Regions from separate parts of the Homo sapiens genome. Here region 1 is linked to region 2. The links come from fine-mapping of genetic effects on gene expression. Tissue or cell type: whole blood. Region 2 holds a variant in brackets; the other region holds the start of a gene. All regions are shown on one strand. Distances are from middle to middle. Region 1 holds the start of EFR3A (EFR3 homolog A). Region 2 has its middle 89 kb from the start of EFR3A.

The links. PIP is the estimated chance that this variant, and not a neighbour inherited with it, causes the effect.
Region 1: it holds the start of EFR3A, and the variant in region 2 is fine-mapped to the expression of EFR3A in whole blood (TOPMed, PIP above 0.99).

What each region holds. Positions count from the first base shown.
Region 1 is chr8:131,892,472-131,908,398 of GRCh38, forward strand. EFR3A (EFR3 homolog A) reads left to right here and starts at 11,622. Exons shown (of 23, transcript NM_015137.6): 1 at 11,622-11,851. The coding sequence starts at 11,842. RefSeq lists a silencer at 11,519-11,998 and an enhancer at 12,569-12,618.
Region 2 is chr8:131,806,534-131,823,453 of GRCh38, forward strand. No RefSeq gene overlaps it. Among named protein-coding and RNA genes, the nearest start is that of EFR3A, 89 kb to the right of the region's middle. RefSeq lists enhancers at 4,838-5,358, 9,751-9,880, 10,011-10,160, 13,536-14,037. The variant G/A (reference allele first, on the strand shown) is at 7,999.

The DNA.
Region 1 (15,927 bases), 85 kb after region 2:
CCTCCTTTGTATAGAAAATCTACCCTGGTAAAGCAGACCTCCTTTCCTGTTAGAATCTTAAAATACCATCTGTGTGCTTTCCCACCATTCTTACAGCTAGGTACTTGACCTCAACATTACCTACCAGGTTTAACCAAGCCAAACTTTGAATTAGAAGGTAGTGGCGCAAAAGAAAAAAAGGGCAGAGCCTCTCTGAATCTCTGTTTGTGGTGGGAGGCAGCAGCAATAGCAGCAGGCACCCTCAGTAGCCAGAGGCAATAGGAGCAATGTCCAGTGTCAGTGAACAGGGCTCGCGACAATCGTGTATCTATGTTACAAGCAGCAGCCCGGTGATGCTGCACAGGCCAGTCTCGTGTAACTTGTCTATAGCCACTGAGCTGAAACCTCAGGCTTTCCTGACTACTCCATGAGTTACCCAGTTATCATGTCCTGAATTCCTTTTTGGCTTAAATCAGTCAGACTTGCTTTCTATTGATTGAAATTTAGAACTCTGACTAACACATACCATGTATTTAATGAAGATTAATTGAACTTATATCATGTGCCCGGCACTAGGGGCTATCAGATGCTACGGAAACGATATTGAACAAATGAAGATGAGGTTGCTGCCTACATGGAACTTATAGGCTAGAGATGGAGATATTAATAGAATAATAATGAAAATACGTTTGATATTAATTCTGTTGTCTTTTCCACATTTACAGTTCCTTGAAGTTCATGACATTACTTTCTCCTGGCATTAAAGCAAGAGTATTTAAATCAGAAGGAAAGAGGCAAAATGTTATTCATGACTTAGGGGAGAGGTGAATTAGACATAATTAGTATTTTTTAAAATACTTTTCTGCATTTTACAGTTTCTCTATAATTGGCATGCATGTCTTCTTAAAACATTTCCATTAGACAGATTGGACTTTACTCTCCAGCTGGAATCATTGAAACCTGCAAAGATTTTTAGTTAATCCTATCAAAAACTGCTTTTCACTAGCCTGTGTCATTATAATAGCAGTTGGAAACTGTAGTTGGTCTATGTGAGATTATACTAAATTTGTTAACGTAATATGTCTTAATATGATTTAGAAGAAATGCTTTATTTTCTTGTTAGCACTGTTATAAAACAAGTAAAGCAGGCCAGACTATATTAAGAACAATTTTATTGAATATTGGAATAAATGACCATGGAGAGAAACTACTCTTAAAAGATTTGCAATTAAATTAGACAATTTTAGAACTGACTTATTAAATGTCTAAGCTCTGTCACCTGCTTAGTTATGTAAAATTGTGTTACTTTACCTCCATGGTGGGAGAACAGTCATATCAACAGAAATCAATGACATTTTTCTCTCTTCTCTTTCCCCACAGCTCATTCTTCATGCTGTGCTTGTTTATCTGAGTTGTCTAATGATCCCTTATGTTCAGAATTCTGCATCCTACCAAGCCTGGCTGTAGTGGTGCCATTTAAAAGTGTGCAAACTTCACTGTGGTTTTGGACAATTAGTTCAAAACTAAGTTTGAGAGCAAAGTGGGAAATTCCACTGGCCATATGTTATGAGTGCATAGGGTTTCCTTGGATCAACTACTCCCTTTGTTGGGAAACTACATTCCTTTCCACTTTGCTGCTAAACTTCTATTTCTATAGCCTTCTTTCCTTCCTACCTTGTTTCTGTTTCATTTATTTATTATGAGTTACTCAGTTAAAAAAGCTCACTCTGTGGTTACCAGTAATCTATCTTTCTTTCTTTCTTCCTTTCTTTTCTTTTTTTTTTTTTTTTTTTTTTTTGAGATGGAGACTCACTCTATTGCCCAGGCTGGAGTGCAGTGGCGCAGTCTCCACTCACTGAAACCTCCGCCTCCCAGGTTCAAGCGATTCTCATGCCTCAGCCTCCTGAGTAGCTGAAATTACAAGCACACACCACCAAGCCCAGCTAATTTTTGTATTATTAGTAGAGACACGGTTTCGCCATATTGGCTAGGCTGTTCTCAAACTCCTGGACCTCAAGTGATCTGCCTGCCTCGGCCTCCCAAAGTGCAGGAATTACAGGCATGAGTCACCACACCTGGCCTCTCAATACCAATTGGAAGTATTTAGCCATAGAACTCTGGGTGATGAATGATTGCTTGCTGCATCATTCAGTGACAACAACTCGCCTAGCTTTGAAAATTATCTATTATTATGCTCTATTACCTGTAATCTAAACAGAGCTGTGATTTAGAGAGAGCCATTTTTTACTGACTTTAGGCTCATTGCCTGCACACACAATAACTTTTTGTTTAAATGCTGCATTATAGTGTGGTATTTTTGAACCAATTTAAGGAACAATTAGATTTGATTGAATTCAAATTTACATTAAAATTCAATCACGTGTGATGACATTAGTGAAAATAACTGTTGGGACAATTGCCTGGATCTAGGTATGGTTGAGTCAGACAGTAACAGCTACAGTGCTAGGGAGCAGAAATTTATACCTTTCCTTCCATAGCTGGCAAGTTTCAGCTGACATCAAATGTCAGTTGTATTCTTATTCCAGAAACATTTAAATGAGAAAAAAAAATCATCTTAGAATTGGGCAAATCTGGTGTTTTGATTTTGCAACTTAACTCCTTGAGCTCTGAGCATCTCTTGTGCTCACATTAGATACCTCCACAGTAGGATACTGGCTCTCGGATGCTTCCATCACTTCCCTGTTACCTCAGTGCATGTTTCTGGATCTAGCAAGGCAGTTCGATTCATGCACTTGTCAAAAACATTGAGAATTTATTTTGCTGTGTTAGGCCTAATTCTTGCTCTTTTAAAACAAACACTTTGTTGAAAATCTAGGATACAAAGAGACTTATAGACCACTCAAAGTGGTCTATAACATAACAATGCCCCTGATTCTCTAATAAAAACAATAAGATACAACAACCAGAATTATCCACACTAGTTTCAGCAATCTGCTTGTGAGATGTATTTTTCCATATTTCCAAGCAGGTCTACCACCTCTCTCCCTTATTTCATTAGATATAAATAGGATTTGGTTGAACTGGGTTTCTGCTTTAAAGGTATAAAATGTTCTGGATTTACTTCTAACTACTTCCTGCTCCCACCCCCCAACTACCCCTGCCAGTTCAAGATTCAAGGTAAATATAATTAGTAGCAATAATAGCTAATCATAACTCTATTGCCTTATTTGAGGCAAATTTAATAACTATCCTCCACCCACTCATCATTTACTAGCTACATTAAAGACCAAGATGGAACAATGTATGGACAAAGATTTCTCATAGGAATGCACAAGTATTGAATGTACAAGTATTGCAATATTTTAAAGTTTATTTTCTGAGAAAGATGAAGGTTGATACAATTAGAACTTGCTTGAAACAACAGTTATAGTTTGAAACCAATAGTCAACAGTCCCAATTTCTTATTTCTATCTTTTTCCCAAATGAGAGAAAAACAAACAATTACATGGTGATTGTAATTCAGCTTCAAGCCTTTAAAAGGAGACTCAATACAAAACCTACTGGCATTTTTTTAAGGAATTAGAAACAGATGGAAAGCATGATTCTTCCTCTGGAGGGTTTGACATTCTTTCTGCAAAACAGATTGGAAAAAAGACAATAATTGCCTCTAAATCCACCCGTTGTAGGTATGCATCTCCTATTGGGCCTTCTAATTTGCTCTTCAGATGACTTTGCATACTGTCTGTGGTGAAGATCTTGGGTTTGCGGGGGGCAGACAGGCCTGATTTCAAATTCCTGGGTCATGACTGACTTGGGTGACTTTGGGGAAACTATTTAATCTCTCCATGCTTCAGTTTCCTCATACTAAAACAACAGGTATACTTAAGCGTATCCATTCAGTTTTGTGAGGATTATGTCAGAAAATGTACTTAAGGTACTTAGCATGGTATTTGGCACGTACTAAAAGCTTGATAAATTATACCACCCATGATTACTTGTATACGCTATTGATTATTAGCAACAGTTATAGTGAAAACTAGTAATAGTGATTAGGGGATACATAACTAACCACTCCCAAACTTAGTGGCTTAAAGTAACAGCTATTTCTTCAGCTCGTGCTCCTGTGTGTTGACAATTTGGGCTGGTCTCAGCTGGGTGGTGCTTATGTGGCTTTTGGCTAGGCTGACTTTTGAATTCTTGTTTAGCTGGGTGACCAGCAGGGGCTGACTGATATATGGTGGCCTCATCTGGGATGATTAGGAGGATTGGCGCCTCTCTCTTCAAATAGAAAGTTTGGGCTTCTTCACCCTTTTTAAGTCTCTGCTCACATAATGTTTGTCACTGCCTCTTTGGTCAAAGCAAGTTACAAGGACAATGCAGACTCAGAGATGAGGAAAAAATTATCTCTTCGGGGGAGGTATCCCCAAATCAACTGCAAGAGTGTAGATATAGCCAGAGGTAAAAAAAATCTAAGCGATTTTTCTAATCTACCACAAAGATCTCCTTTCAATACTTCAACTGACCTCTCTGTGATGCTTGCCCTTTATGTTTTTCCCCTTCCTCCCTCCCTCTCTTCCTCCAATTCCCACACTTCCTCAAATATTTATTAAATAAAATATTTCATGTGCAGGAGATACAGCAATAAATAAGATTTGATACCAATTGTCATAAAAGTCTTGTAAAAAACTCACTGCCTAGCATGAGACCATATTTAGAAGATTTTTTTCTCTCCTTTCAGCAGCTCCCCTACACTCTGTGTTAAATGCTAAAGCTAGCTAACATTTTAGTAAATAACAATGAGAGTTAATGCTTTCCTCTAATTGTTTAAAATGATAGTGTTTCTAAGGAAGGGTTTCCAGCTGTTTTGTCTGATTTAATCAAGAACTCTTAACCTGATTATCTCAAGATTTTGCTCCACCCATTTGCAATTCTCTTTATAAAGCAGAGATGACTGAGACATTTGGCTCATGACATGATCGGGAGTGTCTGCCTTGCACAGTGTCCTAGTTGGCACCGAAAAGTTTGGGCAATGACCTTCTGGATTAGAGGCTGTTAAAGGGTAAGCTGGCTGGGTGTGGTGGCTCATGCCTGTAATCCTAGTACTTTGGGAGGCCGAGGCGGGCAGATCACCTGAGGTCAGGAGTTCGAAACCAGACTGACCAACATGCTGAAACCCGGTCTCTACTAAAAATACAAGATTAGCTGGGTGTGGTGGCACATGCCTGTAATCCCAGCTAATTGGGAGGCTGAGGCAGGATAATTGCTTAGACCCGGGAGAGGTTGCAGTGAGCCCAGATCATGCCATTGTACTCCAGCCTGGGCAACAAGAGCGAAACTCCATCTCAAAAAAAAAAAAAGAAGAAGAAGAAAATGTAAACTGAGGCATAATAAAATTTTAAAGAGTTTATTTGCACAAATAGCGATGCATGAATCTTCGGAGGGAACACCAGGGGAAGGTTTCTATAGGATGGACATAGAAGTAAAGCAAATAAAATATTTGATTGATTATAATTATACAGTCCCCATACTTGGTTTATTCTGTTAGAAAGTCCCTAGTTATATAAATTTGTTGATAACTTCTGATTGGTTGAGCTTAAGTTCTGTTTTTTCTTGAATTTCAGCATTTACAAGAAATAGCTCAAGTTAAGTTTTACTTACATTTGCAAATCAAGCAAGGCTTAGTTCACTCACAAGGCCTAACTGGTTTTATCTGCTCAGGGGTTCTTTAGACCTGGTCTGCATCTTAATTTACTTTAGCAAGACTTATCTTTTTTGTATGTTTTCATAAGTGTTTCCAATTCCTTTGTGGGGAAAGCAGAATCCAAACTCAGGTTTTCTGTGTCTAAAGTCTGTGTTTTTTATGCCTCATAAGAACTGGAAAGCCTTAAGTTATGATTAATCAATGGTAAAATGAAATGGAATGAAATGAAAAAAAGGGCATATTATTGATATGTATTGTGAGAAAAAAACTAAGCAATGAGAGCATCAGATTGCATCATTATGACTTTTTTGGAATAAGCTTTTAGGAGGAGTGAATCTATAGCCTTATTAATTATTTCCTATAAACTGTAAATTTGCTGGCAATTACCTTTGAAGCACTAAAATGCATGCTAATTAAAAGTGAATTCTCTCAGTGCAGGATTTAGAAATTGGAACAAATACTACACTAAACTGGAAACAGAGCTATTTTGGACAATTTGAGCTAAAAGCCAATGCTCTAATAGGATATCAACAACGACCTTTCTAATATTATTTTGACCTCTTATTTTCTGAGAAGGAATAAAAGAAGGGACAAAGAACTTCTATTTTTAATGGCATGTATTCTGAAAATGTGCCAGAAAACATAAAAAAGAAAGTACTCTTCTATTTAAGTGCTAGTGAATGTCTTTCTTGATTTGAACTCAACATTGGCTTTTGAAGAGTTTAAACAAAATAAACAGGTACTATTAGTAATGATTAATATATAGGTAATGAGGTAACAAATGTCCCAGTCCTGACCAGCCTATATGTATAAATAAGGACAAGTTAATGCCCACATTACCTTGGTTCTTTATCCCACCTGCACATGCAGGCCTCAGCAGCCCTCCTTAGGATCCACCACAGTTACTGGGAGTCCCCAATATCTGCTATGTACCGCAAGAAGCACTAGGGCCCTTCAGAGACAGGATGGAGGTATGCAAATTAGCTCTGGAACTTGAAAGAAACACCTTAAAGCCAACTTAGAAGTCTTGGAAGGTCTTTTTGTACTTAGTGATATTTGAAAATAATTTGTTTCTTTTTTAAAAAAATCAGTTGCAAAGACTGCAGCAATCACATTCCTTTTTCATTGTACACTGTCGTCTTTCTGTTCAAAGCCCTTTTTTTGCTAATTTTATTTCCCTATTCTCACTCCCTTTCCCTTCACCTCCTTATATATCATTGTTGAGATCCATGTTTTCTACGTGCATGTTTTTTAAAAAATGACATAAATAGTACTGTGCTATAAATATTGATGCTTCTTAATTCTGCATTTTTTTTTTTTTCGAGACGGAGTTTTACTCTTGTTGCCCAGGCTGGAGTGCAGTGGCACGGTCTTGGCTCACTGCAACTTCTGCCTCCTGGGTTCAAGCGATTCTCCTGCCTCAGCCTCCCAAGTAGCCGGGATTACAGGTATCCACCACCATGTCTGGCTAATTTTTGTTATTTTAGTAGAGACGGAGTTTCACCATGTTGGCCAGGCTGGTTTCGAACTCCTGAGCTCCAGTGATCCACCCGCCTTGGCTTCCCAAAGTGCTGGGATTACAGGCGTGAGCCACTGAGCCTGGCCAATTCTGCATTTTTAAGATCAAGCCATGTTGCTGATGTGCATCCACAGTACGTATGAATCCACCATGTTCTGCAAGTGACAAACGCCTAGGTGGCCTCCAACTCCGCATTGCCATGAACAACACGTCAATTAACCTTTTTATCCATCTTCCTTGTGGACCCTGGTGAGAAATTTTCCAGGATATATTCCCAGAAGGATGATCTCCAGGTCATAGGGCATACTTAATTACACCAAACACTCACAAGGACTTTGGAAGTTAGCTAGAGCAGGGGACAGAAAAGCCCATTCCAGCAGGGCAAAGAGCATGGGCAAAAGAATGGAAGAGTGCTACAGCAGAGTGGTTTCTGAGAACTGTGCACTCATTAGGACCAGGGGAAGCAAAGCGTAAGTTGCAATGTAGGGGAACTGAAGAGCTCTCAATGTCAGGCCTTGAAAGGCTTCCTGTGCTAAGCTAAGGGCTTTGAACTGTAGACTGAACACTCTACTGAGCCATAGACAAGTGTTAGCAGGTGAGAGGTCATAGTCCATTTCCATTCCTATAAAGGAATACCTGAGGCTGGGTAATTTATAAAGAAAAGAACTTTATTTGGCCCACAGTTCTGCAGACTGTATAAGAAGCATGGTGCCAGTGTCTGCTTCTGGTGAGGGTTTCAGGGAGTTTCTACTCATGGTGGAAGGGGAAGGGAGGAGGCATCACATGGCATGAGAGAGGGAAAGGAGGTGCCAGACAATTTTTAGCAATCAGATACTGCAGGAACCAACAGAGAACTTATTCATTACCTTAAGGAAGGCACCAAATTGTTCATAAGGGATCCACCCCCATCACCCAAACACCTTCCACCTAGGCCCCACCTCCAATGTGGGGGATCAAATTTCAATATGAGATTTGGAGGGAACAAATATCCAAACCATATCAGAGGTATCATTAGATTTGCATGTTAGAAAGGGCACTCTGCCTGCCCTGCACCCTGACAAAAGCATCACCTCAAATACCAAGCTCAAACACTAAAGTGGCTCAAATGCCAAGGCAGTGTGTCTTCTCTTAAAGGGATCTGGTGACTCGTCTCCATGTCTACCACACATAGTGTCCAGGACAAGAGCTGGGCAGTGTGGGCACCAAGAGAGATGGCTAAATCCTCGTTCCTGTCAGCCCAGACTGGGCTCCAAGAGAGGAGCACTGACACAGAGGGGATAGAAAGGGGAAGGGTGTTTGCAAAAGGGGATACACCAAGAGGGGTAAGACCAAGTACCAAAGATGACGGCAGACTCTCTGCTCTCAGAAGTAGGGGGTAGGGGGCCGGGCGTGGTGGCTCACACCTGTCATCCCAGCACTTTGAGAGGCCGAGACAGGCAGATCACTTGAGGCTGGGAGTTTGAGACCAGCCTGGCCAACATGACAAAACCCCGTCTCTACTAAAATTACAAAAATTAGCCAGGCGTGGTGGCATGCACCTGTAGTTCCAGTTACTTGGGAGGCTGAGTTAGGAGAATTGTTTGAACCCAGGAGGTGGAGGCTGCAGTGAGGTGAGATTGCACCACTGCACTCCAGCCTAGGCGACAGAGTGAAACTCTGTCTCAAAAAAAAAAAAAAAAATCAAAAAGGAAGCGGGGGCTGGCTGTGGTGGATACACCGGCAGAACTCGGATCCAGAGGATAGGTTAGGGAAAGAGTATGGTAACATTGCTACCAATGTGCACAAACTAGGGAAAAAAAAAAAACCACGTAGGTACTGTATATATAATCAAAACATTATGACACTATTTTTCCTGACATTCAGCTGTCCTTCCTCAGAATCTTTGGCTGCTGATTTTTATTTCTGGCAACAATACAAAACCAAAAGACCAAGAGGATTAAAAACAGAAAGAAATGAAAAACAAACAAACAAAAAAACAACCAGTATGTGCAGGACAATTTCAGGGCCTTTGGGATCTGCATCTTTTTCAAGGTAATGTAAGCAGAGATGTCTGCCTTTTGGAGTCATGTCTTCCCTTGGCTCCTGGGGCACTGTATCCTGTGGATCTCGTCTCTCTGTGCCTTCACTGCCTCCACATCTTCCCTAAAAGGGCTCTCTTTGACACCCAGCTTCAGCTCCTGTCCCGGGACCAAAGATTTCCAAATCTCCCACCCTGAGGTCCCTCAGCCCACCTTCATCCTGGCTTGCCCAGCTGCCTTCAGATTCATTCACTCGGATGTCTCCCTCTGATACCACCTCAAGCTCAATATGTCAAGGAGAAACTCACACCTTTCTTCACACCCCTTCCCTAAAACAGCATTTCTTCCTGACTGGTCTACTGCTCTCCAGCACCACCACTTTCCTTGTTCCAACCTTGGAGTTACATAACTAACAGATGCCTCTCTATTGCTCCCAAGTCAGCAGCCAACAAATCCAGGGATTCTTTTCCAAAGTAAGATTCAGTTCTTTCTTTTTCCACAGCCACCACCAAGACTGAGCACCTAACACTCTCTCCTGTATTGGGGCCTTCCGATTTGGCTGCCTACCTCCACAGTTTCTCTGCCACACCATTCCCCCTGCAAGGCCCTGCTTCTGATAATTTAATGTTACTGTTATGCTTTTTGTAAAAATCACAGAACAGTTTCTTAAAAGACAAATTCCAAGGTTGAATGTAAAGTTGTTTATCAGTTTTATTTACCTGTTTTTGTTTTCATACTCTTGAATAAAATCCTTTATTTATATATTGAATTAATATACTCTGGCCCCCACCTGTGTGCCAGCCAAGGATACATAAACATGAACAGAATATGGCTTTTGCCATTTTCTGAAAAGCAAATAGGCCCATGGTAAAACACAAGCACTCATGACAGTTTATTTAGGATGCAGTGAGAAAAGTGCTGTAGCAGAGAGGAATCAAGATAATGCCAAAGTCTTAGGGAGAAAACTGGAAGCATGAAAGATTTTATAGGTGATAAAATATGCAACAGGGCATTAAAACATGAATAAGCACTAGGTAGTTTGGTCTTTACTGTTAGCAAGGGACAGTCTCTCTTTTTTTTTTTTTTTTTTTGAGATGGAGTCTTGCTCTGTAGCCCAGGCTAGAGTCCAGTGGCCCGATCTCGGCTCACTGCAAACTCCGTCTCCTGGGTTCAAGCGATTCTCCTTCCTCAGCTTCCCAAGTAGCTGAGTGAGAATATAGGCATGTGCCACCACCCCCGCCTAATTTTTGCATTTTCAGTACAGACAGGGTTTCGCCATGTTGGCCAGGCTGATCTCGAACTCCTGACCTCAGGTGATCTGCCCACCGCCCACCTCGGTCTCCCAAAGTGTTAGGATTACAGGCGTGAGCCACCGTTCCCAGCTGGACAGTCTCTTTTATAGGTACAGTACACACTCTCCTCTCCCCAGCTGCCATGACTCACTCTAAATTACCCTTCATCCTCTCCCCAGCCTCTTTTAGGACTCCCCTAGGCTTTGCTAATTCAAATTCTGCTTTCTTCCAAGTCCACCTCAAGCCAAGACTAATTTCTCCTCAGCGCTTCCTAGCTCTGATCTTCATGTTCTTCATCTTCTCCTCCCAGTACTGCACAATATCATTTCTTAATCAGAAGGTTAGCCCTACTTTTTAGGACAAAGGTTCTCAGTATTATCATTGTATTTAAATCATCTGTATATGTGTTCGTAGATTTGGCTCAGCACCTAGGAATCTGCTTTTCAACAAGTCCCCAGGGGATCCAAGCACAAAAGGATCCTGGACCACTTTGACCCACTTTGAGGAAGGCTGTGTTAAACCTCTGCGGTTGGCTTTTATATCTCCATATGGGCTGTCCGCAGCCCACGGCGCCTAGCATAGTGTAGGTGCGTTGCTCAGCTCTCTGGCTCCCGGTGTCTGCTCAGCTTGGTGACTATTAGATACCTCAATTATTAATGACACCCAGAGTCAAGAAGAGTAGCTCAGCCAAGTGCACAGAGCTGCCCTCTCCAGAGGAGACTAACTCCTGAGGGATAAGGTCGCTCTGAAAGTCACAAGAGCAAAAGGAAATTACATTTTCTGCCCTCTCAAAAAATGAGCAGCCATCACCCCAAATGACCTTAGTGCATCTCAAATAAACCATGCTTTCAGAGTATGCAAAACGCACTGCAAGTTAAACCGATTGCAAAAGAAAAAGCCCACAGGTACTCCGTGCGCTCAAAGCCATCATCCTCACAAACGTAAAGTGATGCACTCCAAATAGAGATCAAGGAAAACGAATGCCACGCAGGTCACCAGGCTTGGAAAATAGAAGGCACCCGAAGTTGTTCTACGTGGCTGTCCCCAGCCACCCATTCCACCCGCTCGACAAGGGATCCTGGGCCGAGCCCGGCCATCCGCGGGGGCGGGGCCGGGACGGCGGCGGCGCGCTGACGTAACGGGCGTGGGTCGTCCGTCGCGCCGCCCGGCGAGGAGTGGGCTGGCGGCGGTAGCTGTCGCCCGCTTGGTTGCGTGACCGCGGGGTCCGCGTCCGCTCCCTCCACCCTTCGCCCTTCGCCCTTCGCCTCGTTCCGGCCTCCGCGGCCCAGCAACGGCCGTCATGGTGCCGTCGGCGCTCCCTGCGCGGCCCCGCTGAGCCTCGGTGCGGCGGCGAGCGCGGTCGAGATCGCCATGCCTACCCGTGAGTGGCCGGCCGAGGGCCGGGGGCGTTGGGAGGCGACTGCCTGCGCGACGCGCTTGGGCCGGGTACTCCTCCCGGGCGGCTGGGGAGGCTGGGCCGCGCTGAGCAGAGCCAGGAAGTGTCTGCGAGCGGCGGAGTTAGTTTCGTTTCGGCTTAGCCTTCCGGAGATGGCGTGAGCCCGTTGCACGGATCGGGAAACTGAGGCCCGAACGTTAAGGGAACTGCGGGGACGCGCTGTTAGGAGGCGGCAGAGCTGGTGGTAACCTGACCCGTGGGATTTCAAAGTTAAAGCCCTTTTCCCACGGCCACACGGCTTCGTGGGACTTTATGGAAATATTGAAAATAACTGCGGTACCATTGTCAGTCCCTTCTCACCTCGGGCCGGACGTCGCTAGTGGACGCGCCGGCCCCGAGTCCCTTCCCGCGGCCGCCAGACAGACCCCCGACAGCCTAACTCGGCGTCCGTATCGCCGTCGGGGCGGCTGAAGTCGGAGCTTTCTGTGGAGCTTGTTAGGCAGAGGCACCTCGACTGTGGCTTTTGGACCACACTTCGGATTCACCCGGGCAGATGATTAAAAATGCCGGTTTCGGGACCCGCCCTATTCCCATGGAATTAGTCTGGAGCTTGGGCCCCGGAGTCTGCATGTCTAATAAGCGTCCCTGGGGTTACCAAGGCACCCCAAAGTTTAAAAGTCACTCGGTGTTGGAGGATTTTTAGACAGACGCGATACTACAAGTACTGCTAATGACCTATTTTAAAATGACCCAGATAATCGCAGTGTGACTTTATAGCCACTGGTCAATGTGGATATGTGCAAACTAGGGAAGCTCCTGATCTTGGGTAGAGAGGAAGCAACTTTGTCATTGATTTGAGAATTCAAGTAGGACTCCTTTGACTAAGTGTTCAATACTATAGAATCTTTACACACTTGTGAATATATTTCCTAGAATTCATAACTACTTCTAGTTGTCCTTGTTTTGTAGCCATCTGGGACGCTGAATTTCCAGGTCAGTCTCCAATGCACGTTTCGTCTAGTGGTGGGAAAAGATGAGTTATTTCTTGATATTATAAAGATTGATATTTTCCTGATATTTAAGGATATTAAATTTAAATTGATATTAAAGATATTTAAATATCTTTTTGAGATTTAAAGATTTTCCTGTGGCAAATCTTTACATAGTCCTGATGTAGAGATTACTTTTAACTCCTCATACATGTGTGGGTACTGTGGATTTTGTTTTCTTCACACACTACTGTGTGTCCTTAACTCACGTTCTTGGACTTCGCATCCAGTAAATATGTCCAGTTTAAATTTCTGTTTTATTCCTTTTGGCTGGAGGAATATCATTTACAATCATCTTCATTGTTATTGCCAGTTTAGTACTTCTAAATTCATGTTCACGTTATTCAGTGAATATCTGAGACTAGCACTATGCTAATCTTTTATTTTCTGAGAAACCAAAGGGGAGGAGGTAAGCACCTATTGAAAGTTGAGGCTTCAAGTAGAATTTATTGGTAACATGCCAGAATTATCCTGTGAAATAAAATTTTTAGTTATGTTCTAGGGTTATCTAGCTTCACAGAGTGGATATAGTAAACTCGTTTCTTTTCAAATGTTGAGTTCATTCTGCAAAATGATTTTAGGATGGGCCATGGTGGAGTTTACATAGTTAAGAATGCAGATTTCACACCCTGACTGGAAGACAAGTGAAATGTTTGTTTTATCTGTCATTGTTAATATTTGTCATGGTACATTTTTTATGACTGAATAAAAATGTGCTGTGGATTGATTGGGGGTACCAGTGTGAGGTGAATAGTGTTCATATTTGCCTTTTCTCTCCTTTGGCAGTCACAGCTGCCGAAATTGCTGGGATAGTGCAGTGGACAACAATATTTCTTTGAAATTCTGTTTGTAGAATATATATCCAACACAGAGATGGCAAAATTGTTATTCTCTGTAGGAATTTAGGAGGAAGTTCACAGCTCTTAGGAGGAAAACTGTGCTCAGATAAGCTAAGTGTTTTTGTTTGATTGGTTGTTTTAATGTTAAATGGTTGAGAGGCTTAGTGATAAGCCCAAGCCAGTTAATCCGTACGAGTTTTAATTAAAATCAAAGGGTTGGAGGTGATCACTGTGGTCTCTCAGACTCTACAATTCCGAGAGCAACCCTTGCTGTAAGTCATAGAATTATTCTACTCTTGCTATTTTGTTGCTTATTTGGAATATTGGTACTCATTGAAACTGTTGTTAATAACTAGAATCCAGTGAAGCATGCAGTAACCCCACTGGTTAAGCAATGATATATCTCATGAATATTAACAGCCACTTCACTAGAATTATTTTGGAGATCCGTAGACTCTTTGAGAAAGCAACCACCTGGAAGGATGCCTGACAGGAAACTGCCAGGACACAGAAACAATTTTGTGGTCGTGTTACAAGCCTGTAGTCTGAAACAATCCTTAGGCACAGATTTCAAGACTATGCTGCTGAATGCTGTTGCAAACCTGTAAACCTATAATTTGACACATCATTTTTCTAGAGGCCTTTATTTCATTCTCCATTCAAAGGACCATTAAGAAGCGTTTTATTTGAAAGATTTTCAAACTCTGAATCGGAGTTTGAGTTGGAACGACTGTTAAAGCTTCTTCATCATTTTATGTTGTGTATCGGGAAGCTGAGCCTTCTGAGAGTTTCCATGGAGTAAAACCATGACTTGAACACAGAACTGGCCCCTATAATCAGTAACCACAGTGAGCATAGTAACATTAATTTTTCTCTAGCACTAAATTGATAATAGTTTAGCCTTTTTTTCCCCTTGAGTTACATTAAGACAAATGTAAGCTTGGTCAAAAATTTAAATCGTTCTGTGAACTTACAAGAATGCATTTGCTTCCATCCTGTCACAGAAATCTTTGGAAAAGCTGTGGATATCACTGGTGTGCTAAGTAGATTCTTGTTTATATAGACACAAACTTAAACTTTTAGTAAACTCCTTATGTGAAAATGGCTCCTGAGTTCACAGATAACTTGCCTCAAAACAGGTCCGGTAAAATGTGCTCTTTTATTTTATATGAAAAGTTATTCTATATTTTCTAGGGAAAACCAAAACTCTCAAATATTGTTTGCTGTTAAACTATACTTTGAGTAATTATGTGTGTTGAATGCTTTCTTTTCTCATTTAGGTACTGACGTTGAGGTCTAGGCAAATTTCTTAGGCTGTAATAATAATATGGTTACTCCATGTTTGTTTTTCTTTTGATGAGGCTAATTACATTTAACTTATTTTTTAATTTATTTTTATGAAAGAAATGCAGAATGAATTATAAAAGAGGGTTGCTGATTGAAGTGTTTTCCTTTTAGAGACACATTACATGCAAACTTGACCTACACTTTCATATTACTGGATTATTAGCCTTTTGTGTTCATTCATATTCTCATTCTTTCTCTCCCCTTTTCCCCTCTTCCCCCCTTTCCTCATTGTCCCTTTGCTTCCTTCTCCCCTCCCCTCCCATCTCCCTCCTTCCTCCCTTCTTCTACCCACCACCTATGTGTCCTGCCAGAGTTGTAGCTGATGAATTTTCTTTTTTGCAGTGACCTTTGGCTTGACACTGCCCTGTTTGCTGCCCAGATCTCATCTTTCAGTCTGTCCCCACTTGTGGGGACATGGGGCTACATTAATGATTATGTAGGTGGTAGGAGATAATGCTGGAGAAAGAGAAAGCCAGAATTTGAGGTTTTTTTTTTTTTCTTTTTTTGAGAGGGAGTCTCGCTCTGTCGCCCAGGCTGGAGTGCAGTGGTGAGATCTCTGTTCACTGCAACCTCCAAATCCCGGGTTCAAGCAGTTCTCCTGTCTCAGCCTCCCTAGTAGCTGGGACTACAGGCATGTGCCACCACGCCCGGCTAATTTTTTGTATTTTTAGTAGAGATGGGATTTCACCGTGTTAGCCAGGATGGTCTCAATCTCCTGACCTCGTGATCCACCCGTCTCGGCCTCCCAAAGTGCTGGGATTACAGGTGTGAGCCACCGCTCCCGGCCATTTGAGGGGTTTTATATGCTCTCGCAATCAACAGTTAC
Region 2 (16,920 bases):
GGGCAAAAGGCATGGGGAGTTTCATGTTGGAGAGGTTGGTTATGTCACATAAGATGGTCAGAAATAGTCTCTCATAAGGAAATGAGAATGCAATACTGCAATTAGTTGAGGAAAAGGAATCCAAGGCAGAAAGGACAGCAAGTGCAAAGTATGAAGCCAGCCCAGGTGAGGGTGTCTGAGGGAAACCCTTGTATTTTTATGCTTTTTCTCTTGCATTCACTTCCCCAGGGGAGGACCCCAGAAGCTCCTACCAAATGTACCCACTGCATCTGAAAGCAGCTTCTGCCTTCAGTATCTGAGGTCTTCCTACATGCCAGCTGAACTAAAAATCAGTTACCTGCAGGTCTTCTTTGCCTATTCTCATTTGACCTAGGAGCCTGGGCAGCAAGTTTCCCGCCTCTTCCCTTCTGGTCTTCGTGATCTTCATCACTGAAAATCCCTTAAGGTAATGATCTTCTAAGGACAGTGATCCCAAGGCAATGGGAGCCAATGGTGGAGACACATTATCAAATCTCCATTTTATAAAAATAAAACATATCAATTTGTCTGCAGTATGAACCACACATTGGAGAGAGCAAGATAGCTCTCTTCTAACTGGAAAACCAGTTAGAAGGCTGTTGCATCAGTCCAGTGAGCGATGATGGTGACCTAAATCTAAGTAACAGCAGTAAGGATAAAAGGTACTAGGATGGTAGAACTGATGGGGCTTGGCAACTGATTAAATGTGGGCCCACGTGGAAACGGGAGGGCTCCAGGGTGACTTCTGGCTGTTACTTTGGCAACCAGAGTTTGGGAGTGCCATGCACTGAGATAAAGAGAAGCAGAAGCAGGGTAGAGAAAGATGATGTTCTTAACCACATCCCGGACTATCTTAGGATTTGTTAAAGAGCAATCAACAAGGATATCACAGAATCCATATGTATGTAGTTGAACAGATGAAACTTACAAGTGTAAATAATTAGGGGATATTTTGAAGCAGGACATAATTAGTTGCAAAAATATATGCTTGGGACTACCAACCGGTGCAAAGGATGCAGGAAGGCTTGAGGTCATGGGGCAGTCATAAGGAAAGCACATGAGACCATGATTTGAGTTTTGAAGATTTAAATGAGTAGAGAGAAATAAGTGATGAGGAAATGGTGACCAGGCTCGTTACCTAAACAAAGCCACAGCTGCAAGAGTGAGGGAGCTGTGTTTGAGAAGCAGTGACTCAAAGAAATATATAAAAATTCTCCATAGCTATATCTGAAGTATAGCTATAGTCCAGGATGCACTGAAATTAATGAAGAGATCATAATACTGGTGAACAAATATTCTGGGAATATAAGTTGTACAAGGTGGGCACTGGTAGATCTCCTGTGGGGTTTAGTTGAAGGGCATGAGTTGTGAAGTTAGATATGATTCTGTTCACATCCTGGAATCATTGCTAATGAACTTTATGGTTTGGGCAAGTGAACTCATCTTTGCAAGTCTTAAGTCTCCTGTGTGAAAATGAGAACAGTAATACTTTGCTATACTCTAACGAATAAATGAGATGGTGTGGAGTACACACTCAACATATATTCATTCCTTTCTGCCACTCATTTTGAGTCCCGGCTCATCATGAGATATCTGAACAGGGTCCCCTGATATGCTGTATGGAATTGATCTCAGCATCAGTTGACACCAAAGAAGTTTAAGCTCATGGTCACATAAAGAAACCACTATAAACTAATTTGCTTATAGGGCGAGTTGTAACCGTAAGCCTGAACGTACTGAATATGCTCAATAAATTGCAAATAACTTACAGACATCAATGCCATGTGAATGTGGTATCAACTGGCTGCTGGTCTGCCCTCATGGGTTGATCAACCTATCTCCTTAGCCAGTAGGAGCAGGGCACAGCTGGGTCCATGTTCCCATTCATTTCTGCTGCTGCCCTGGCCCTCTTTCCCTGCTTCCATGTCCGGGCATCAGTGCTGAATTTAGCTCCCTCAGATTTAGTCCTGAAAGTTACAAGCTTTGTGCAATTGGAAGACTAAATGCTATTCTGTTGCTTTTGCTCATAAACTGCAATTTGAGTGAAATAGCTTGTTTTTCATTAATATATATATTTCTTTTTCTCGTTTTCTAAAAATTGCTTAATATATTTAATTATTCCCTTTATTTCCATACCTACTCATATTCCTCAGACCACCTTCCCAATGGGCAACTATTCTAAAATTCTTAAAGCACAGGCCGGGCACGGTGGCTCACATCTGTACTCCCAGCACTTTGGGAGGTGGAGGCAGGTGAATCACCCCAAGTTGGGAGTTCAAGACCAGCCTGGCCAACATGGTGAAACCCTGTCTTTACTACAAACACAAAAAGTAGCCAGGCATGGTGGCGCACGCCTGTAGTCCCAGCCAGTCGGGAGGCTCAGGCACAAGAATTGCTTGAGCCCAGGAAGTAGAGGCTACAATGAGCCAGGATCATGCCACTGCACTCTGGCCAGGGTGACAGAGTGAGACTTCATCTGAAAAATGAAATAAAATTCTTAAAACACATCATTTTGCATATATGTGTTTCATGAATGGATTAAATGATAATATACTTAGTCAATTTTTTTGTTGTTGTTTTTCTTCCTCCACCTCCTTGACTTCCTTTCCTGGGCTGTGAACATCTCCAGGATGGGTACCTGCCTGCTTAGTCTCTCCAGAGCCTAAGTCTCTCCAGAGTTTAGAACAGTCTCCATATAGTGATTCTCAAAAAAAACAACAAATGCATATGGGTCCAGGTTGAACCAAATTCTAAATGTTCCAGAGAACTAAAGGTTACACACATGAAATGTTTATAATGCAATTCAAAATATTTCATTATGCTTGCTGACACAATTTGTGGATGCAGTAGCTGAGCTCCCTACAAACTGTTAAGAACCAATCAGGTCTCTGAGAGAGAATTTGAGGAGTAAAACAGAGGGCTTCAGTTCAGTGCACTGATTGTGATTCTTATTACAAATGGTACCACTTAATTCTCTTGTTCCAGACTTTGCTCCACATTGAGATAACCATGGTTTTACAGAAAGAATCCTGGAGTCCCAAGACCCATGATTAAATCCCCCTTATAAGCTCTTATCATTTCAGGTTATTTATTTATTTATTTTACTTTTTAAGGTGGCCAGACTTTAAACACAGGGAATAAGCAGCATTTGATATATATAAATATAAGAATTTGCATGGGACACAACTGGGACTTTGAAGTAAAACATTATCAGGGATGGAAACAGCTCTAGAGATCAACTACTTTTTTACACTCTCTCTCGAGGGCCACACTGTGAAGTAGTATGCAGGGAGGGGAAGATGTTTATGGACCTGATATTCTGCCAGTGAAAACATACAAGCTGTTAAATATTGAAAAACTCTCAAACTAGTTGATAAATAAGTTCCATCCCACCTCAGGTTCTTAGCCCCAACTGCTCTATCTTTCTGCTGGGGTCTTCATTGACTTTCAGATTTTCCTACATAACAGCTGGAGTAATGTCAGGTGGCGCAGGTACTGAGGTCCTGCTCAGGTACCAGTCCTCCCATTTAGGAGCTCTGTTCTAGTTCATCATACCCTTGCTAAGCTGGCTGTTGGCTACTTTAGACAGGCTTGTGTGTGTGTATGCATATGTGACTATGTCTGTGTGTATCTCCGTGCCTCTCTTTCTCTGCTTCTTTCTGCACAAGGATTCCATTCTCCTCTCTCTGACATAAGGCTTCACGTGCCTATCCCTGGTTTCTCTTCCCTTATCACCTAAGCCTGCACAGAACTAACATGACCTCACTGCCCCTTCTTCATATCCTCACCCATACGTCTCAGCTTCTGTTTCTAGCTTCCAGTTTCAAATTCCTGGTGGCAGGAACGACATTGACCCAGTTAACTTTTCTATTCAAAGTCACATCACTGAGTCCTAGCTACCTTGATCTGACCTCCAAGAAAGCAGGGTGGGGGAAGACGATGGTTCAGCTTCCCTTGGAAGGGTTTGAGTATGGAATTGATCTCCACGGAACAAATAGTTTCTGTAGAAAGTAATTCTGAACTCGTTTGTAAAAATTCTTTTGAAAGAGCCTGGAACATAGTGGAGATTCAATAAATCCCTTCCAAAGCTGACTCTGTGAGAAGCTAGAAGTCAGTTCAAGATCAGTTCCATCACCTATCACCTGGGATGTTAAACTTGGTGAGCTCTCTGAGCTTCTGTATTTCACAATGCAAAGTGAAGATGAGTAGCATTTCTACTTTATGAGACTATTGTGAGATTGAAATAAGAAGTTCCCTGTGTGTGATAGTAAAGATTAAGAGCTTTGGGGTCTATGAAACTTCTTCTACTCATTAGCCAGAGGATTGGAGGCAAATCATTTAACACTGTATATCAAACAATTCCCGATAATTGGAGTTGAGGTTTTTGGAAAATTGAAGCAACTCACATAGTCTAAGGCAATCTCCTGTCCAGGTTGGAAAGGGAACTTTGGCTGGTGAAGCCTGTGAAACTTTCTTTCTAGGGCAATACCACGGGACATTTGTTCCACTCCAGTTTCACATTTCTACAAGGAAGCATCCGACTGGCTCAGCTTTGATTACTGTATGCAATAGACTGAATGTTTATGTCCCCACCCCAAATTCATCTGCTGAAATCGAATCCCCATTGTAATGGTATTTGGACACAGGGCCTTTGGGAGGTGACTGGGTCATGACGGTAGAGTCCTCATCAACAGCATTAGTGCCCTGATAAAAGAGTTCCCAGAGAATGCCTTTGCTCCTTCTACCATGTGAGGACACAGAAAAAAAAAAAAAAAAAAAAAAAAAAAAAACAGTTGCCTATAAATCAGGAATCAGGCCCTCACCAGATAACCCAAATCTGCCTGCACCTTGATCTTGGACTTCCAGCCTTCAAGACTGCAAGGAACAAATCTCTGTTGTTTGTAAGCCACCCAGTCTATAGTATTCTGTTCTAGCACTCCAAATGGATTAAGGCACTCTCTTTCCCTAAACGGGTCAGCCTTGGCTCAAGGACAGTTGGGTTGGGATGAGAAGAGTAAAAGGAACCTCCCCGCATGACAACGAGGGCAATCACTATGGGTGAAGAATGAATGACAGAAAGCACTTAGCTCACTGTCAGACACATAATAGGGCCTCAGTGCAGCGTTGCTGTGTGATAGCGTTTTGCAAAGTGTGAGATCCTTATTCTCCTACATGACTATCAGGTTGCTGACATTGTACTACATTCCAGAGGGCAGAGAGAAGTATAAGAAATGGCCCTGCCTTCTAGAATCTTACAGTCTAGATGAGAAAAATAACAATGCATACTTATAGGCTTGATTTTATAATACAGATTATAAGCACAAAAGGACAAAGCGGAGCACCTTAACAGAGGGAGGGGTGAGAGCAAATGAAAAAAAAAATTCCAAGAGACAAATAGAAGTGTTGTAAGAAAAATAATTTGGAAAAAATTGATTTTGAGGCTAGACTAGAAAGTAATTTTCTATTCCATTTCCTGGGCAGTCTCATACCCATAACAAAAACAGACTTATTTATAACACCATTGATTGTCTTGTATATAGAGTTAAGAATATAAAATAGGAGGGGGGCACATTCCATTTTGACAGATGCAGAAATAATAAGAAAAACGCAGTCATCATTCCTCCACTGCTCCCTCTGGATCTTTTCTGTTTTCTCTGACTCCCTGCCTTGCCAAGCAATTTAGTTTTATCCCTACGAATGAAGCAATTTACATGATTTGAGTTTGGCTTTGTTTGTGTATTACTGAGAAATGTCCTATACCTCCACCATCAATTACCTTGAACAATATCGTAAGGATTTATTAAAAAATAGATTTAAGCAAAACATATCTTTCACACACAGAGAGAATCAGACTATAGCATTAGAAGATAAATTAACATTTCCACTAATCTAATCCAGGCTGTCTGTGAAACATTTCTTAATAAGATAGACGAAAGGGCTGCATTCTGCTTATGCGCCAGCCTGTGGATTTTCACTGGGGCTCTGCCTCGCACCTCCACTTTATGTTCTTTCTCACACAGGCATTTCAATATTGCCGCATTCAGATTTCCTGCAGTGAGAGGCGATTTCATAATGAACGGTCCTGCCGCGCAGCAAGGCCAAGGATAGTTTGGACATGACACCTTCAAAGGAAATCTCTGTTCTAGAGCTTAGAGACTGGAGGGTGTGTGTGTGTGTGTGTGTGTGTGTGTGTGTGTGTGTGTGTGAGATGCTGAGGCTTCCTTCAAAGAGCTAGCTGGTCCAGGAAGGAAGAATAATTCTGATCTTATCTCTTCCTTATTCCACAAGAAAGTAAAAATACCCAACATTTTTCATGCTGTGTTCTGGGATTTTTATACCTATTAATACTCATTAAAGCTTCAAAATAACTGAGTAAGGCCCATAGGATTATTATCACCATTTTATAGATGAGGAAACTAAGGCACAGAGAGGTTAAGAAAGCTGGCCAGATGGACGAACTGGTGGTACACTCTGGAGGCAGGTTTTGAACAGAGGTAATTTGACCCTAGAGCTTATACTCCTTTTCACTGTTTACTAGATTTATGAGTTACATGTGCATGGTTGCTACATGGCTATATTGCATAATGGTGAGGTTTGGTCTTCTAGTGTACCCACCATCTGAATAGTGAGCATTGTACCCAAGCTCAGTATACAGAAATAATAATATTACAGTATACAGAAATATTATAATGTACAGAAATAATATTCTATATATTCTTTTTTCCCAACCTTCCCCCTTTTGGAGTTCCCAGTGACTACTATTTCCCTCTGTAGGCCCACGTGTACACATTGCTCAGCTCTCACTTATAAGTGGAAACATGTAGCATTTGATTTTCTGTTTCTGAGTTATTTCTCTTGGGATAATGGCCTCCGGTTCCACCCATGATGCTGCAAAATGATTTTATTCTTTTTTATGGCTGTATAGTATTCCACAGAGTTTATGCTCTTAATCCTTAATCATACTACCAGAAGACATTTTGAGGACCCTCCTACACATACACCAGCACCCAGAATATGATCCTGAAAAAAAAAACAATTTAAAATGTAGTCACTAATTGAAATAGTCAATTTCAGATCCTTGGCTCCAGACAAAATGGCTACACAGATCAACTTGATCTGGAAACATAACTCTGGTCTTTTATTTCCCCCTCTGCCCCACTTACTGTCAATTATTTTCCATTCCCATTCTCACCAATGAATACTACTATGCTGTACAGATAGGAGAGCTGCCATCCCCCTGCACTCTGCAGAAGTTACCCCATTTAGGGTATAATGGCCTGTTGTGGGTGCCATGGTTATTGTTATTATTATATAGTTATGAAGTGCTCATTATATTCTAGTACTCATATTCTAAGCACTTCATATGCATTATATTATTTAAACCACATCCCAACTCCATATGGGTTACTGCTGCTATCCCCATATTTTCAGAGTTTGAGAATGAAATGAGATTTTGCATTTAAAGCCCATTGCTTATTTCACTTAGCATAATGTCCTCTAGGTTCACCCATGTTGTCACAAGTCATAAGATTTCCTTCTTTTTGAAGGCTGTATAGTGTTTCATTGTGTTTTTATATCACATTTTCTTTATCAGTTGATCACTTGATGGACACTTATGTTGCTTCCCTATCTTGCCTGTTGTGAATAATGCTACAGTGTACATGGGACTATGGCTACCTCAATTATTATTTGTCAGTTAAAAATAACATATTTTTAAGCTCATTGATCAGTAACTAGTTCATAGAAAGCACCCAAAAATGTCAGCTGTTGTCATTACCATCATCTTTATCTGTTATTATTATTGTACTTTTTACTATTGCTTTAACACAGCTCATAGGGAATGTAGCACAGATTAGAACTTGGATCTGTGCGCCTCCAAAGCCTATCCCTTCGTCATCCCCATAAAGCCTCTGTGTAGAAATCGGCAACCAAAATGGTGAAAGAGCTATGAGCCAGCATATCTGGAGTGGTTAACAGACA[G/A]GATGTGTTCAGTGGGGTGTAGCTAAGACCCAGGGAAGTGGAAATAATATTCTGTATATTTTTTGCCACTGAAGGGCCTATGTGGGACCAACAGTCAAGACTTCAGAAAGGCAATGTTTAACTCTACTTGTGGAGCATTGTCACAATCTTTCCTTACTAACAATGAAATAGGATTTTCTGCATGGTAGCTGGTATTTTTATCCCTAGGAATACTAACTTAGAAGATATACAACTATCCGTCAGAGACCATGAAAAGAATTTCTTGAGGTAGTGTCATGAGTTAACTTCAACCACCCCCTACAAATGAAATTCTATGATTCATACAGAAGTCTGGCAGCCTAGGAAATTTCCCTTCCTTGTCCCAACGCAGACACAAGTTGCAAACCTTCTCCTTTGTTTACCTTCTATTCCATCCCTTTCAAATTTCAGGACCTCAAAACTTATCTGATAAAATAATGGTCTTAATGTATCTCATTTTCAGTGAATCAATATCTTACTCCTTCTAGTGAATTTGTTTTAAAACAACCAAAAATATTAATTACATAAATAAAATATGTATATTAAGGAAAATTAGAAAATATTTTTAAAAGACAATTATGAAACAAAATTACAAAATCTAAGAAAAAGAAAGAAGATAACTTATCTATAATCTCTATCAATATGTTGATACATATTTTCCCAACCCCTTTTTAACTTTTTGCAATTTGAAAGATGAATTCTGAAAACACAGATATGGCTCTAAATATAGAAATGTTCTGTAGAGTGGAAATTATACATATTTTCATTGCAGTAGACCAAATATTGAGCACTTAACTATATGCTAAACATTGTGTAAGTTACTAACAATACACAATCAAATAAGCCAGGATTCCTTCTTTCAAGACTCTCAAAGTCTAGGGCAGGAAACAGCACATAAATAAACATTAATAAAAGTATGCGTATAATAAGAGGTTCTGTAACAATAAGCATATATAGGTTTATTCGTGCTCCTAAAAATAATAATGGCCATAATCACAGTAACTAACAGTGATCAAAATTTTACATTTACTTTAGCTAGTTTTCACCTTAAGACAACCTTGGGAGTTGACACGCATTTTTATCTTAATTTCCATTTTAAGGTAAACAGAGAAATATAATGGAAAATCTGTGGGCTTCAGAACCAAGGAGATTTACATTCAACTCTAGATTCTGGTTCTGACTGGCCACATAGCCCTAAACTGTCACTTAATATATTCAACTACCTCTCACGGTTGCTTTCAGGTTTAGAATTGACATCTGTAATGTGCCTGACACGTGGCAGGTAGTCCCGAAAATGCAGCTTTTATTACTGAACAAAGCTCAGAATAAGTCAGTGATTTGTCCAAGTTCACACAAGTAGTGAACAGAGTAGGAACTCTAAAACAAAGTGTCTGATTCTAATCCTGTCTTCCTCCGCAGCACCACTTATAGCACTTAGGCAATCATCTATTGTAGGCAATGGGACGGTTCGAAAATAGAGCAGGTGCTACATAAATATCTCCACGTATCTATATATATACATTTTACATATTTTTCTCAGTTCTCTTTTCTTCTTAAGTGACCAGAAAAAAGAAAAGGTCAAATAAAAGTTGGTTTTTTTTTCCATTGAAAATCTGCTGCCCAAATTCCCAGTTCACAGTCCCCAACATCAATAGTACAGGCTGCAATTAAAAGAGGAAATGAGAGGGACTCATTATGCCTATGGAGAAATCCATCCTATAACTGCAAAACCTGCAAAGTAACTCTGTTCATAGGATATGGGCCATTTACCTTCTAGGCTATGACTCCACTGTCCTGTGGACTGGGCTGAAAAGCCCACCCGAGACCTCTCAAGATACCTGTTTAGTTTCCATTTTAATTTAATGGGTAATGAGTTCCCTTTATGGAAGATACTCACTTTCCTTAGCTCTCTGTAATAATGAAACAGGGCTGCTAAAGAAAACACAGAGCGGTGGTGAAGAGAAAACCCCAGTCAACCAGGCCACTGCCTGCTGACCATGAGTCAGCAGGTAGCACTGTTATGCAACATGAATGCTGAAATGAGCCGCACGATCTGAGAACAACCACAGAAGCTGGAGTTGCAAGAAACCTTAGAGCATTCTTTTTCAAAACAGATTTTTTAACTCATTCCACAATCAGAAGTACATTTTACAATTACAAGCTAACACACATGTATAAATACATAAACAAAAAACTTTCATAAAACAATTGTTATCCTTACCACAGGGGATGCAGTCCAATATTGCCTATTCTGATCCATTCTCTTCTTTACTACTTGACAGTAAGTTAATTTCTCAACATGCTATTAATCACCACATGTGGTTTGGTTGAAAAAAAAAAAGCTGCTTTGAAGAATATCTCATTCAATCCTCTATGCAATGTCCATGCAAGTTCTGATTCATGCCAGCATGGGGTACTCTTTAAGAATGTCAAAATCATTCAAGACATATGAGTTTACAGAAAATGATGAAAGAATAATAATCTTCACCTACCATTGTGAACACTTCCTAGGAACTAGGCTCCATGCTGGGGCTCCAAATCTATATACTATTTTATCGTTACAGCAAGCCATTTAGATGGTTCTGTTATCACCCCTGTTTTACAGATGAGGAAATTGAGGCCTCCACTGAAGGCTAGCTATTTCTTACAAAGGGTCACTTGGAGCTCAGTTATTTGCAGTTAATCCATTAATCATCATCTAGTCCATTTAATCATCTAATCCATTTGGTACTCTGTCATCGGCAGGAGAGATGATACTAGCGACTAAAGCTTTTGTTACATTTGCTTTTCCTCTTGGATGTCACTTGACCCTGGCACTTGAGCCCTTTTTGATCTTGCCCTACTTTCTGTAATAGGAAGTTCACTGGTGTGTACAGCCACAGTTAGCCCTGGAATGACAACATGGAACTCAACAAATCATCCCTGGAATTCTATCTGTATGCATTTCTTCTCTCTATCTTCAGCCTGTTCACTTTCATTATGAGGGCAAAAGGCTACAACAGTTCCAGGCATCACAGTCTCACTTGACTGCAGCCAAAGCGGAGAGAAAAGGGAGGAAAAGTGCTTTCTCCTATTTTTATTTTTGGTCGTTGTTGTTGGGTTTTGTTTTTGTTTTTGTTTTTTGTTTTAAGTTTTTGAGACAGAGTCTTGCTGTATCGCCCAGGCTGAAGTGCAGTGGTGCAATCTCGGCTCACTGCAACCTCCGCCTCCCGGGTTCAAGTGATTCTCCCTCCTCAACCTCCCGAGTAGCTGGGATTATAGGCACCTGCCATCAGGGAGGCTAATTTTTGTAGAGATGGGGTTTCACCATGTTGGCCAGGCTAGTCTTCAACTCCTGACCTCAGGTGATCCACCTGCCTCAGCCTCCCAAAGTGCTGGGATTACAGGCATGAGCCACCTTACCTGACTCTCCTATTTTTGGATTGGAAAACTTTTTTTTAAAGACCTCAAAATTCTTCCATTGGCCATATCCCAATCACTAGCTCACCTCAGACCAATCACTGATACATCTGCTGCCTTCCCTAAGGTGGGCATTTTGCCAGGTGTACAAAATCATGATTTTGTTATTGAGAAAGGGGGTTGTGACTGTTGGGTAGGCAACTAACGCTACGTGCTCCATTGGCCTTTTAGAATCTGCATCATGTTCACCTTCCCAACCATATCTCTCCCCACTTTCTCCCAACATTGAACTCCCACGCAAACTTTACTGACCTTTTTTTCTGTAGTTCTTTCAGTGTACAATGACTTACTAATCTTAGGACTTTTACTCTTGTCCTTTCCTTTGCCTGAAACATTCCTTACCCGACTTCCATCTTCTTCTACTTGTTAATTCCTATGCTTGCTTAAGGTCTTGAATTAAATGTACTCTCCTTCAGTAAACCATGTCTGAGTAAGGTCTGGGTTAGGTCCCTCTCATACCTACTCTCTACTTGGCTGAAATGAAATTTAGAGGCCATGTCTGTCATTACCTTTCTTGTACCCTCAGTCCCTATTAAGGTACCTTCAATGGTCTTTTGCTAAATATTTATTGAGTAAATGAGTAAAAGCTGCAGTTATTCAGTTGAAAGGGCATTGTATTTTAATATCATCTATTTTGAGTACACATCAGAGACATTATCAACTTTTTATAAACCACATAACAAAATTGCAGACTGTGTTCATCCCAATTTTACTCAATAGGAAATGAGACTCAAAGGGATCATGTTCAAGGCCACACAGCTTGTGGATGACAGAGACAAGATTCAAAACCTTGTCTGATTCTAGAGCCCAGGGATTTTCTGCTCCACCATGCTGCTGTCCAGTAAGAGACACATCAACTCAAAGTCCTCCACCAGCCCTAGTTTTTGATATGACCTAGACAAACATTTTCTGTAAAGGGACAGATAGTGAATATTTTAGGCTTTGAAGGACATATAGTTTCTGTTGCAACTAATCTACTCTGTTGTACTTTGAAAGCAGCCATGGATAATATGTAAACAAATGAGCTTTGTTGTATTCCAATAAAACTTTATTTGCAAAAACAAGTGACAAGCCAAATTTGGCTCATAGGCCATAGTTTGCAAACCCTCTAACCTAGAGCAATTCAATTCCCCAATGTTAGCTTTGTATTTTTCATCCATAAACTGGGTAGTTTGGATTTGATGCCTACTAAGGTGACTTTGTACTCTGAAACTCAAGTATTAATTACTGTTCTGAAGTCCCCCAAAATCCTGTTATGTTTATTGTATCAGTGATAAGAAAGGTACAATGTAAGTGTTATTCAATAAAAACATTAACATAAATGTGTGTTCAGAAAAAAAACTATTAAAAAGAAACACACAATGCATACAGTGAAAAATGTAGCCAATATAAACTAAAGCACAAAAAAGGAAAAACCTTAGCCACGTATTATCATACGAGAGTTTTTTGCTTTATCATTTCTACTATATAAAATAATCTAACACTTCTTTAAAACTAGGCTTTTAATTTTAGCTTGTGCTATCACTTAAAATGTAGGTGCCCTCATTCCCCTTCAAACATTTTAAATATTGATTCTTGCTTTTAGAAGGTTATAATTAACACATATGGAAATATAGACTTACCCATTATAAACCTTTAGAGATCCATAAATAAATATTTACTCTTATAGCATACAGTTGTTGTAAGCATTGAATAAGATTGTGTACCTGGCAAAAACCTGACCAAATGGAGGTGTTTCATCCATTTTAATTGTTGTTGTGGTTATCAGTTTTACTGACTTCTGTTTAATGTTGATGTCAGAAGCAATGTTTTATACATTAGATCTGTGATCCTCAACTGGGGGCAATTTTGACCCCCAGGAGATATTCAGTGATGTCAAAGATATTTTTGGTTGAGACGACTAGGTGCTGCTTCTAGCACCCAGTAAGTAGAGACCAGAGATGCTGCCAAACACCCTTCAATTCACAGACTAGCTCCTCACAGCAAAGAGTTATCCAGCCTAAATGTCAATAGTGTTAAGGTAGAGACACACTGCATCAGACCCAATAACCCCTATTCCTCGCATGGTTCCAAACAGAACACAAAGTATTGTCAATAAATGTTTGTGATTGAATAAATGAATAAGTGGATGAACAAAAGTAGTTACTGTTAGGCCTCTGAGCCCAAGCTAAGCCATCATATCTCCTGTGACCTGCACATACACATCCAGATGGCCAGTTCCTGCCTTAACTGATGACATTCCACCACAAAAGAAATGAAAATGGCCTGTTCCTGCCTTAACTTATGACATTATCTTGTGAAATTCCTTCTCCTGGCTCATCCTGGCTCAAAAGCTCCCCTGCTGAGCACCTTGTGACCCAACACCTGCCCACCAGAGAACAACTCCCTTTGACTGTAATTTTCCTTTACACTATGGGCAAGCTTCCGACCTCCATTCCCCCTTCTTCTCCCTTAGCTTGTGTTCTTAAAAACATAAAACCTCTTCAACTCACACCTGACCTAAAACCTAAATGCCTTATTTTCTTCTACAATGCCGCTTGACCCCAATACAAACTCGACAGTAGTTCCAAATAGCCAGAAAATGGCATTTTCAATTTTTCCATCCTACAAGATCTAAATAATTCTTGTCGTAAAATGGGCAAGTGGTCTGAGGTGCCTGACATCCAGGCATTCTTTTACACATTGGTCCCTCCCTAGTCTCTGTTCCCAATGCAACTAGTCCCAAATCTTCCATCTTTCCCTCCCGCCTGTCCCCTCAGTCCCAACCCCAAGCGTCGCTGAGTCTTTCTAATCTTCCTTTTCTACAGACCCATCTGACCTCTCCCCTCCTTGCCAGGCTGAGCTAGGTCCCGATTCTTCCTCAGCCTCTGCTCCTCCACCCTATAGTCCTTTTATCACCTCCCCTCCTCACACTTGGTCTGGCTTACAGTTTTGTTCCCTGACTAGCCCTCCCCCACCTGCCCAGCAATTTCCTCTTAAAAAGGTGGCTGGAGCTAAAGGCATAGTCAAGGTTAATGCTCCTTTTTCTTTATCCTAAATCAGATAGCGTTTAGGCTCTTTTTCATCAAATACAAAAATCCAGCCCAGTTCATGGCTCGTTTGGCAGCAACACTGAGATGCTTTACAGCCCTAGACCCTGAAAGGTCAGAAGGCCGTCTTATTCTCAATATGCATTTTATTTTATTACCCAATCTGCTCCCGACATGAAATAAAGCTCCAAAAATTAAATTCTGGCCCTCAAACCCCACAACAGGACTTAATGAACCTTGCCTTCAAGGTGTACAATAATAGAGTAGAGGCAGCCAAGTAGCAATGTATTTCTGAGTTGCAATTCTTTGCCTCCATTGAGACAAACCCCAGCCACGTCTCCAGCACACAAGAACTCCAAAAGCCTGAACCACAGCTGCCAGGGGTTCCTCCAGAACCTCCTCCCCCAGGAGCTTGCTACAAGTGCCAGAAATCTGGCCACTGGGCCAAGGAATGCCCACAGCCTGGGATTCCTCCTAAGCTGTATCCCAACTGCGTTGGACCCCACTGAAAATCGGACTGTCCAACTCACCTGGCAGCCACTCCCAGAGCCCCTAGAACTCTGGCCCCAGGCTCTGACTGACTCCTTCCCAGACCTTCTTGGCTTAGCAGCTGAAGACTGACACTGCCTGATCACCTCGAAAGCCTACAGGACCATCACAGATGATCTGGGTAACTCTCACAGTGGAAGGTAAGTCTGTCCTCTTCTTAATCAATACGGAGGCTACCCACTCCACATTACCTTCCTTTCAAGGGCCTGTTTCCATTGCCTCTATAACTGTTGTACGTATTGACAGCCAGGCTTCTAAACCTCTTAAAACTCTCCAACTCTGGTGCCAACTTAGACAACACTCTTTTAAGCACTCCTTTTTAATTATCACTCCTTTTTAATTATCAGCCCAGTTCCCTTATTAGGCGGAGACACTTTAACTAAATTATCTGCTTCCCTGACTATTCCTGGACTACAGCCACATCTCATTGCCACCCTTCTTCCCAATCCAAAGCCTCCTTTGCATCCTCCTCTTGTATCCCCCCACCTTAACCCACAAGTATCGGATACCTCTACTCCCTTCTTGGTGACAATGATGCACCCCTTACCATCTCATTAAAACCTAATCACCCTTACCCCGCTCAATGCCAATATCCCATCCCACAGCATGCTTTAAAAGGATTAAAGCCTGTTATCACTTGCCTCCTAGAGCATGGGCTTCTAAAACCTATAAACTCTCCTTCGAATTCCCCCATTTTACCTGTCCAAAAACCGGACAAGTCTTACAGATTAGTTTAGGATCTGCACCTTATCAACCAAATTGTTTTGCCTATCCACACCGTGGTGCCAAACCCATATACTCTCCTATCCTCGATACCTCCCTCCACAACCCTTTATTCTGTTCTAGATCTCAAACATGTTTTCTTTACTATTCCTTTACACCCGTCATCCCAGCCTCTCTTCGCTTTCACTTGGACTGACCCTGACACCCATCAGGCCCAGCAAATTACCTGGGCTGTACTGCCACAAAGCTTCACAGACAGCCCCTATTACTTCAGTCAAGCCCAAATTTCTTCCTCATCTGTTACCTATCTTGGCATAATTCTCATAAAAACACACGTGCTCTCCCTGCCGATCATGTCCAGCAGATCTCTCAAACCCCAACACCTTCTACAAAACAACAACTCCTTTCCTTCCTAGGCATAGTTAGATACTTTCACCTTTAGATACCTGGTTTTGCCATCCTAACAAAACCATTATATAAACTCACAAAAGGAAACCTAGCTGACCCCATGGATCCTAAATCCTTTCCCCACTCCTCTTTCCATTCCTTGAAGACAGCTTTAGAGACTGCCCCATCCTAGCTCTCCCTGACTCATCCCAACTCTTTTCATTACCCACAGCCGAAGTGCAGGGCTGTGCAGTCAGAATTCTTATACAAGAACCAGGACTGCATCCTGTAGCCTTTTTATCCAAACAACTTGACCTTACTGTTTTGCCTAGCCCTCAAGTCTGCGTGCGGGGGCCGCCACCGCCCTAATACTTTTAGAGGCCCTTAAAATCACAAACTATACTCAACTCGCTCTCTACATTTCTCATAACTTCCAAAATCTATTTTATTCCTCACACCTGACGTATATACTTTCTGCTTCCTGGCTCCTTCAGCTGTACTCACTCTTTGTTAAGTCTCCACAATTACCATTGTTCCTGGCCCGGACTTCAATCTGGCCTCCCACATTATTCCTGATACCACAACTGACCCCCATGACTGTATCTCTCTGACCCACCTGACATTCACCCCATTTCCCCATATTTCCTTCTTTCCTGTTCCTCACCCTGATCACACTTGGTTTATTGACGGCAGTTCCACCAGGCCTAATCGCCACACACCAGCAAAGGCAGGCTATGCTATAGTACAAGCCAGTAGC